Linked DNA regions of Homo sapiens. The protein of the gene in region 1 purifies or fractionates together with the protein of each later gene. This does not show direct contact. Each region holds a gene or a part of one and is shown on either strand. Other genes may lie near its edges.

Region 1 (5,219 bases):
GAAATGCCAGACAATGCAAATGTCTGGCTGACACTAGCCATGTACCCTTGGGCAAAGTCCTTCCCTCTCCCTGTGAAAGTTTTCCTTATCTGTAAAGTGAGGTTAATTCCTCTTATTGGAAAGGAAAAGTTGTCAGGAGAACTAAGTGAGATACGAGATATAAAATGCTAGGAATAGTACCTTGCCTATGGCAAGTACTCTATAAATATTGGCTGTAACCATTACTGGGTAAACAAGGATGGATCATTACTCTGTCCATTTACTCTGAAAACTTTAGGACTCCCCTTGAAGAGCCACAGATCTTTAACATACAGTAAAACGGGACCACCAAGAGGAATTTTCCTGCTCGGGGCAAAACAGGCAGTTGGGGCCACTGCTGTGCCTACCTGGCTCTTCTCCAGGGGCACCTGTCAGAGCCACAAGGAGCATTTGGAACACATGCATGCCTGACCCACCTGCCCATGCGCTGATTCAGCAGATCCCAGGTGGGGGGTCTGTATTTTTAGCAAGTGTCACAGGAGACTCTGATGTGTGTCCCTGGCTGAGAGCCAGTATCTACCGGTTGCCAGGGTCTCTGACTAACCCAGGGCTAGAAGGCAATTCAGCCAAAGTCCCCTTGGCCCCTCTCCCCACCGTACCTGACTGGCTCAGTGTTTCTGCAAGCCTTAGAGGACTCATGCCTAGGATCCAGTTTTCTTCTCTAGGGGTAGTTCTATGTGACGTGAGTCAGAAAACCTGGGTCTGCTGTCTCTACCTGCAGGCCCCTGTTCCTGTGAAAGAGGGGTCCTAGCTCTATTCTGCTGCGGGAACAGAAAAGCTGGGATCTACTATCCAGGAAGCCTTCCGCAGGCAATTTGAGCCTTTCCATGAGTCTGCTTGGCTCTCACTGGGATTGGGGCCATATTTGTTCCCTGGGAACAATGCAGATGGGAAAGTGCAAATTCAAGAGGATGGAAAAAGCTGTGGCAAGAAATAAAAGAAGGTATAGAATAAAAAGAGAGTAAGAGCAAAGTCTGATTTGGGGGGATGGGGGTGGGGGAAGGACTAGAGCACCTAGGAGGGAAATGGAAATGTCAGATCCACTCAGAGATCAGGTTCAAGGCTAACTCCTAGAATAGCTAACATAAAACAGGGCATACACACTTTTGCCTAGAGGGAGGCTGTGGCGCTCACTGGAGTACCCTGTGATAACAGATCCTGGTGCAGGCATACTCAGACCTGAAGGGCTGGGCATTTTGCCAGACAAAGAAACTCCATTCTATTTGGTCTCTGGTCCAGAGATGCTTCCAGTTTTAAGTCGTCAACTTATCCACTTTAATTTCTAGTACTTTCTTTGTAAGATTTGCGTGTTAATGTGCTCATCTGCATCCCAGTTCAGAACTACTACTCCATTTCAGAAAAGTGAGGGAAATATGTCAGGGCCACACCCAATCCCACGTCCCAAAGACAAGCGAGTTAATTCCATGCTTCCCAGAGCTGGCCAGACTAAGACAAGATGAAAAGCAGATCAATGCTGCTTTTGTACTTTCTCAATGTTGTACCCCAAAACCACAGGAGCAAACAAATAGCTTAAGAACATCTATTTCTCTTCAAACCCCATTTTCTTTTTCCCCCTCTTATTAAAATTACCTAAAAGAAACCTCAATCTCTCTGAATTCATTAACTCTCAAAGCAGACAGTGAGAGAATGTAGCATACAGTTGTCCTGAATATTCGTTATATCCATATTTGAGAACCTCTAAGGAAGTTTAGACTTTAGAGACTCACAGGGGGCACATGCCTGGCCTTCTCCCACCCCCAGATGCCCAGGCACCAGACAGAATGGCCAAAGTCCCACAGCCCAGGCAGATAACAAATCACATCCCAAGTCACATGACACAAAGAAGGGGTCTGTGCAGCAAGGCTGTTTGTAAGCCTAAGAGGTTGATCCTTCCAGAAGGCCCAAGCCCCCACAATCAGTGTCCCCTCTGACCCCCGGCCACCTGTCTTGAAAAATAAAACCCACAAGACTACGTGCTGTTTACACTGTGTCCTTGGGGGAATGGAGGAGGGCGAACAGAGTAGTCTAACTATGTAAAGAGGGAGGACATTAATATTTATCAAGCACCTACTAAGTACCAAGTATAATAGAAGGGTAGATATCATTATTACTACTTTATAGATAAGTTACTCAGAATACTAAAGTGATTTATCAAGTCTCATTGCAAATAGGAAAAGAAGGTATTTGAACCCAGGCCTGAAGCAATTTTGCTTCAGAAACAATGCTTTGAAGTAACAATGTAAACTTTAACCACCATCCCTGACCCTGGTCCCCACTCTGTCCAATCTAAGAACCAAACTTACCATGATGGGAATAAAAGACAATACCCCAAATTACCCAAAAGCTAGCAGAAAAAAAAAATTGTAGGAGGAATTGGAAGGGAAGCTATGTATTGATATGTACACACATACACACAATCCCATATATATTTACATATTGTCTTTCTTTTCCATGCTTATTTACAAACACTTTAATTCTTCACAGGTTGGGAGCATCAATTCACGTTGGCTAGAAATGTGACTTCTTTAGTATTTACCATTTTAACAAAATCCATGATAAGGGATTTGGAAGGTCCCATGGAAAGGATGAAATGACACCTCTCTGCTACCCAGTTTCTTTAAGACCTCTACGGTTGAGAAGAGAGGACAAAGGAACACCCCCACCTCTGCCATCCTCCGAGGGATTTTTCACAGCAATTCCAGTGCTGCTCAGTGGAAAGCTCTGCAAGTCAACTGCAAACCCCCAGCCCCAGATGTTAGGCATTTACAAACTTTGTTGCTGATTTATCAGCGCTCCTCTGCAATTTTGGGGACAGGAGCAAACACAAGCTTAAGTCACCACGCAGGCTGCAACCCTTACCCAAAGATGGGGGAAAAACTCCAAAGGAGATGCAGGAGGGAGCCTCAGCAGTCACTGTGAGAGCACAAAGAGGCCAAGACCCAGGGTAGGCAAAGGAAGGTGAGAGGCACCAGCAGGGCAGGAGGAGGAGCCAGCTATAAACATGCAGGCTTCCCGCCCCCTGCATAGCAAGCTATGGAAGGAAGCTCCAGCAAGATTCATGTCTAAGCTTTTCAAGTTAAAGGCTTGCCTACATCTACAGTGAACGGTGTCTGAACAACTTTTTGAGGGAATAAGGCAGAATTTCTCCCTTATGCGGATAACAAAAGAGCTAGCCATCCTGAAAACTTGCCACATCGTAATTTTCAGAGATGGTCAGTCTCTCAGAAGAATCCTTGCAATTAGCTATCAGAACCTGTCCAGTTCGGCATGTGAGAAGGTAATCCAGGGCATCATCGAGAGGAAGGGGCATCAGGATTCATGGACAACAAAAAAATCTCTGATTCCTCCAAAAGGCGTGTGGGTCACTGAGCTCCGGAAGAGGCTGCCTCCACCAGGTCTCATTTCACGTTGGGAGGTTACAGCGTGGGTCTTGTTTCCTTGGCTTTCCCCCATCTAATCCCAAAGCCAAGGTCACAACCTCTTAGCAATGGGGTGACAATCTCATATAGAGCTGCAATCAACAGCCATTCTTGCCAAGCTGATATTAACATTTCTTTTTTCTTTTTGATGTTACACACAATCCTGTCCTTGCTGTACCAGAAAGCCATTTCACCCATCTGTCTGGGAAGATGATCCAATTTTGGTGCTTTTATCATCAATGCTTTCAGCAACTTTGTTCTACTTCCCCTACTGTAATTACTTTTGAATCATCAACGCACCCAGACAGCCTTAAACCTCAGAGAACAGAATGCTAAAAAAAGAAAAAAAAAACCCGCAATGGCAAGTAACTTCACTAAATAGCCACCCAAGCTAGGAGCAATTTGTTTCTTTCCAGAAATTTACTTATTAATAATAAGTACCTCACACTCCTTCTTCCCCTTTTTCCAAAGGCAGGCAAGGCATGGAGATGGGATGTTGTGGAGAGGACGGAGTGGGGAGAAGAAGGAACTCCAAAAGGAGCCAATTAAAACATCTGCTTCCCCAGTCCCCCAGCTTTTGTTTTTTGTTTTGTTTTGAAGACGTAGGTTTTGTTTGTAAATGATGTGGGACTCAGAAAGTTGGTTTAGTGGTTGCTGGGTGCCTAAGCAGCCCAGGAAGAAAGTCTGTCTTCTCTGGAATGCAATCAAATTACATGGGGAGGGGCCGGGCGCGGTGGCTCACGCCTGTAATCCCAGCACTTTGGGAGGCCGAAGGGGGCTGATCACCTCAGGAGTCGAGACCAGCCTGGGCAACTGGCGAAACCCCTGTCTCTACTAAAAAATACAAAAAAATTAGCCAAGCGTGATGGCGCGCGCCTGTAATCCCAGCTACTTGGGAGGCTGAGGCAGGAGAATTGCTTGAATTTAGGAGGCGGAGGTTGCAGTGAGCTGAGATTGCGCCACTGCACTCTAGCCTGGGCAACAGAGTAAGACTCCATCTCAATTAAAATAAAAAATTACATGGGGAGGGAGAGACCCAGTGGCTGCTGGCTTAAACCACACACACAAAAAAGGAGAAACATTAACTCCAAGAAAATCCAACACCAGCAACTTAACACTGTCAAGCCAGTTGCTTTGCTTTCTGCTGTTATCTATTCTGTAGCCTGCCATTCACCCTGGTGGATGAAACTTCCAGCTCTGATTTCTAAGATGCCCCGGCGCAGTCCAGCTTTCCCTTACTCCTCGCGTGGCCCCACGATGCCCAAGGCACACTCCCTGCAAGAGAGTCCCTGCAAGAGAGGAAGACCTAGTGGGGAAGCACAGGGCTCCTCCCCCTACTCATCACCACTGCCCCCTCTTGAATCCCCCCACATCTAGGTTTCTTCCCCTCTGGCTAGCTCTTAGGGTCTTTTCCTGGGATAAAAAGGGAGTGGGAAGAGTCAGGAGTGAGCTATAAACACACGCAGGCTCCCTTCCTTTTTCAGCCATCAGCACAGTTGAGCAGCCAGCAGAGGCGGTGAAGTTGCTGCCTGGGTCACAGCCTGGTTAGTGATGCAGCCAGGAGAGCAGAAATCATGGCAACACCGAGGTCAGGGAGGCCGGAGCCTTCTCGGGGGTTGGGATCTGAGTAGGCAAGGCCATCCCTTCTCAGGGCAGGCTTATTTAAAGTCCGGCCAGTGATGCAAGAGGAACACACTGCCTCCCTCCCCCCACCCTTCCCCCCTCCCAGCTCCTCTCGTTCCACTGAGGGAATTTGGGAGA
Region 2 (5,219 bases), on another chromosome or scaffold:
TCTAGAAAGGCTTCTTGGCTGAAGTATTAAATAATTTCTCACACCCTCCTAACTACCAAGTGGCCAATGTCTAAAACAACCATCATTTAAGATCTCAGTATGCCAGGATAAAAAAAGTCAACAGGAAATTCCAACAGAATGAAGGGAGGCTGTTCACAGAGGCCATGAAGACAGCTTTTGTCTTAAAACAAGCACAAAACAATAATCTTCAAACCTTACTTACAACCTATCAAGTCCCTGGGAGTTCTAGACACAGATGTGATCCCTGAGGGAGTGGCATTCCAGCCAACTGCAAGCACCTAGGGGGTCAGCTCGAGTCAAGAACCTGAAGGCGACTGCCCGCTGACTTGACTCTCTCTGCTCTCCACTCTGCATGGCCTCTGTGCTTGCACCCGATCCCTCATGCTGGAGTGGGAGGCGACAGCCAGAGGCCACTGGAGTCAGTATCCAAGACTGTAGGGATGACAGCACTTCGGGTGGGTACTGCATTGTACCTCTCAGGGACTTAAGTTTCTTTGATTCTCCAAGTCACAGCAGCACAAAGCCTAAGAGCCAGGTTCGTTTCCCACCTTTCCTCACCCCCGCCTGTCCACGCAGCAAATGAAAACTGCAGGAGAATGCCAAGTACCTTATTTTCTTTGCTGGCCTCTCCGGTGTCTGGGAGCGGGAGGAGGCTGGGCTAGAGAAGGGTGATGAACTGGGGCCATTTCTCTTCCAGAGCTAAAAATCAAGAGGGACATGACTGAGCCTGCTGATAACTTAGCATCTGACCCTCAACACGACAAAGTCTCTTTTCAAGTGACTAAAAAAACATTCTTTATGGTTAAATGGTTAGTCATGCCTGTAATCCCAGCATGCTGGGAGGCCAAGGTGGGAGGATCGCTTGAGCCCAGGAATTTGAGCCCAGCCTGGGTAACATAGCGAGACCCCTGTCTCTACAAAAAAACTGAAAAATCAGTTGGGTGTGGTGGTTTGCATCTGTGGTCCCAACTACTCAGGATGCTGCAGTGAGCTGAGATTGCCCCACTGCACTCCAGCCTGGGTGACAGAGTGAGACCCTGTCTCAAAAAAAAAAAAAGAAAAGAAAATGAAAAAAATTTGTTTGTGAAGAAAGACCCCTGAAAAGAAAGTCAACTGCCAGTATTAATTATGAAAGCAAAAGAAGAAAAGTCTATAAAAGTAATGGAATGCGAATAAAGGTAGAAGGGATGGACACACTTTTGCATATATTAGGTGGAACGTTAGCCTCAGTAATGAAGAGCCAGGACACATTCAAACCTGTGCCAGACTGTCTACGGAGAGGATAGAAGTAAATTAAAGAAGATAACCCAGTAAACTAATTTAGTCTTGCTTCTATTAAATTTTCTATTTTAATTTACTAACTTCATTTTAAAAATATGCTGTCGTAACGTTTATGACTTTTGCAACAACGATGGCATTTATCATCATGTGATGATTATCCATACATCTGCCTCTTCCACCAGGTGAGTTCTTGACAGCAAAGACGGTGTTTTCATCTCTGCTTCCTCCACAGACCAGCAGCAAAGTAGATGGCACAGAGCGGACACTGCAAATAGTCTCGTAAGTGCTGAGCCTAATTACAAAGCCACTAAACTGTCACCTCAGACCGTCTTTCCTACTTGAAAAGCTGCTAGTGATTTCTTACCCAGTACCAGCTACATCATATAAGTACAAACAGGAAGCCAGCAATGCTTAATAAGAGTTCAAAAAGGGAAAAGAGGAAGCTTCAGACAAGTGGTAAGCAGCAGAACAGTTCAGTGAGGCCACCATCAGGAAGCCGGGCCCAGGAGGAGCTTGAGAAGACTGCTCACGGCAATAACAGTTGAAGTTACGCTCAAACAGCAAGAAAGGCCAGAGCACAATGGTTTAAAAAACATGGGATTACAGGCATATAAAAGAGCAGAATACAAAAATTCATCAAAGGGATCCAAGGATTGAATATATAAGCGGCATTTTCAATCACTTCAGATCCCTGACACTACCTCACTGGTTCTCAAAGGACGGCTCAGTCACCTGTGGAACTTTTTTTTTTTTTGAGACGGAGCCTTGCTCTGTTACCAGGCTGGAGTGCAGTGGCGCGATCTCAGCTCACTGCAACCTCCGCCTCCCTGGTTCAAGCGATTCTCCTGCCTCAGCCTCCCGAGTAGCTGGGACTACAGGAACATGCCACCACACCCAGCTAATTTTTGTATCTTTAGTAGAGACAGGGTTTCACCATGTTGGCCAGGATGGTCTTGATCTCTTGACCTCGTGATCTGCCTGCCTTGGCCTCCAAAAGTGCTGGGATTACAGGCGTGAGCCACCACACCTAGCCACCTGTGGAACTTTAAAAGCACATAGATGGCCGAGTGCGGTGGCTCACACCTGTAATCCTAGCACTTTCAGAACTGAGGCAGGAGAACTGCTTGAGCCCAGGAGTTTCGGACCAGCCTGGGCAACATAGCAAGACCTTACCTGTAGTTAAAGTAATAAAATTAAAACAATAAAAACCATAAACCTTGCATTTTTCTTCACAATGTGCTCCAGACACTGAGGGATACACATCACTGAGCAAGCAAGGGTCAGAAATGCCAAAGGGGCCAGACGAGGTGGCTCACACCTGTAATCCTAGCACTTCAGGAGGCTGAGGCAGGAGGATCACCTGAGGTCAGGAATTCCAGACCAGCATGGCCAACATGGTGAAACCTCATCTCTTCTAGAAATACAAAAACAAGCTGGGCACGGTGGCTGACGCCTGTAATCCCACCACTTTGGGAGGCCAAGGTGGGCGGATCACGAGGTCAGGAGATTGAGACCATCCTGGCTAACATGGTGAAACCCCGTCTCTACTAAAAATACAAAAAATTAGCCGGGTGTGGTGGCAGGTGCCTGTAGTCCCAGCTACTTGGGAGTCTGAGGCAGGAGAATGGCTGGGAGACAGAGCAAGACTCCGTCTCAAAAAAAAAAAGGAATACAAAAATTAGCCAGGTGTGGTGGTGCATGCCTGTAATCCCAACACTTTGGGAGGCCAAGGTGGGAGGATCACTTGAGCCCAAGAGTTTTGAGACCAGCCTAGGTAACATAGTGAAGTCTCATCTCTACCAAGAAAAAATAAAGAAAAAACAGAAATGCCAAAGGAGACTGTAATGATTAGCTAGGACTGGAAGACAACTGAACAACTGGTTTAACAATTAGGGGAAAAAAGTATTACTCCTCTACTTCATTGACTGTACATACACACTCATTTCAGATCTAACAAGACAAGGATGTTTATTATCATGTCTATTCAACTTAAAGTCCTAGCCAAGTGCAGCAAGACATAAACAGAATAAGATTGCAGAGGAAAGGAAAAACTCATTATCATAGACCTGAGTGTATGTACTAAAATCCTAAAGAACATACAGATTTAGCAAACTTTCTGAATACAAAATCAGTTGTATTTCTACACACCAGCACAGCCAATCACATTTTGAAGGCACTATTTAGAATAGCATATATGAAGGCACTATTTAGAATAGCATATACCTAGGGCCAGGCGCCGTGGCTCACGCCTGTAATCTCAGCACTTTGGGAGGCAGAGGCAGGTGGATCACCTGAGGTCAGGAGTTTGAGATCAGCCTGGCCAACAAGGTGAAACCCTGTCTCTACTAAAACTACAAAAATTCGCCAGGTGTGGTGGCACGTGCCTGTAATCTCAGCTACTCGGAAGTCTGAGGCTGGAGAATCACTTGAACCCAGCAGGTGGAGGCTGCAGTGAGCCGAGATTGTAAATCTAATAAAAAAGAAGTAAAACCTCTACAGAGAAGAAATAGAGATGATGTAAATAAATGAAGGAGGCAGGACATGGTGGCTCACGCCTACAATCCCAGCACTCAGGGAGGCCAAGGTGGGAAGATTGCTTGAGCTCAGGAGTTTGAGACCAGCCTAGGCAACATAGTGAGACTGTGTCTCTATTATAAGTTTTTAAAAATTAGCTAGGTGTGGTGATGCATGCCTGTGGTCCCAGCTACTCAAGAGGCTGAGGCAGGAGAATCGCTTGAGCCTGGGAGTTCAAGGCAGTAGTGAGCTATGATCATGTCACTGCACTCCAGCCTGGGCCACAGAGCAAGACCCCTTGTCTCAAAAGTTAAATAAATAAATAACGACATTCCATGTTCATAGATTAGAAGTAAACAAGGTCAATATTGTAACAATGTTAATTCCATCCAAAGTAATCAGTAGATGAAAGGCAATCCCAATCAGTATCTCAGAACTTTTTTTTTTTTTTGTGGAAATTGACAAGTTGATCTAAAAATTATATGAAAATGCAAAAGGCCAAGATACAAGACAGTCCTGAAGAGAAATGAGAAAGTGGGATGACTGACTCTATCAAGACTTAAAGTATAAGGCTAGGGGTAAAACAAAGACTGGCACAAGGGTAGGTAGAAAAATAGACCAATGGAACAAAACAGAGTCTAGAAATGGACCCACATATATACAGACACTTAAATTAGACAAAGACGGTGCTGCAGAGAAATAAGGATGGTCCTTTCAATAAATGTTGCTAAGAGAAATGGGTATTTCTACAGTAAAAAACAACAACAACAACAACAAAAACCACCAACACCACCAAACACAAAAAAAACTAATTTTGATTCCAACCTCACACCATATACAAAAATTAATTTCAGGTGGTTTATGGATTTACATATAAAAGTAATAATAAAATAATAAAGCTTCTAGAAGGTAGCACAGAAGAAAATTATCATGACCTTAGGTTAGGTAGGCAAAGATTTCCTGAATACTACACAAAGTATGCTAACCACAAGGAAGTAGAATGGCAAGAGCAGGACACTTTTTTGTTGCAACACATACATGACAGACAGCTTGTATCTAGAACATATAAAGAGCGTATTCAAATCTCTAAGAAAAAGACAACAACTTGGGGCCAGGTGTGGTGGCTCACGCCTGTAATCCCAGCACTTCGGGAGGCCAAGGCGGACGGATCACCTGAGGTCACGAGTTCGAGACCATCCTAGCCAACATGGTGAAAACCCATCTCTACTAAAAATACAAAAATTAGCCGGGCATGGTGGTGGGTGCCTGTAATCCCAGCTACTTGGGAGGCTGAGACTGGGGAATTGCTTGAACCCAGGAGGTGGAGGTTGCAGTGAGCCAAGGTCACAGCACTGCACTCCAGCCCGGGCGACAGTGCGAGACTCTGTCTCAAAAGAAAGAAA

Evidence for each region.
Region 2: the proteins of CTDSP2 (region 1) and POM121 purify together in Homo sapiens (affinity purification with mass spectrometry; 3 studies listed by BioGRID and IntAct, with this or other methods). This does not show direct contact.

Annotation. Positions count from the first base shown.
Region 1 is NC_000012.12:57,839,736-57,844,954, forward strand, and holds part of CTDSP2 (carboxy-terminal domain RNA polymerase II polypeptide A small phosphatase 2), read right to left. Parts: intron 4,027-5,219; exon of another isoform or gene 2,524-4,026; intron 1-2,523. UniProt on the Homo sapiens protein: Preferentially catalyzes the dephosphorylation of 'Ser-5' within the tandem 7 residue repeats in the C-terminal domain (CTD) of the largest RNA polymerase II subunit POLR2A.
Region 2 is NC_000007.14:72,934,091-72,939,309, reverse strand, and holds part of POM121 (nuclear envelope pore membrane protein POM 121), read right to left. Parts: intron 721-5,219; coding exon 629-720; intron 1-628. UniProt on the Homo sapiens protein: Essential component of the nuclear pore complex (NPC). The repeat-containing domain may be involved in anchoring components of the pore complex to the pore membrane. When overexpressed in cells induces the formation of cytoplasmic annulate lamellae (AL).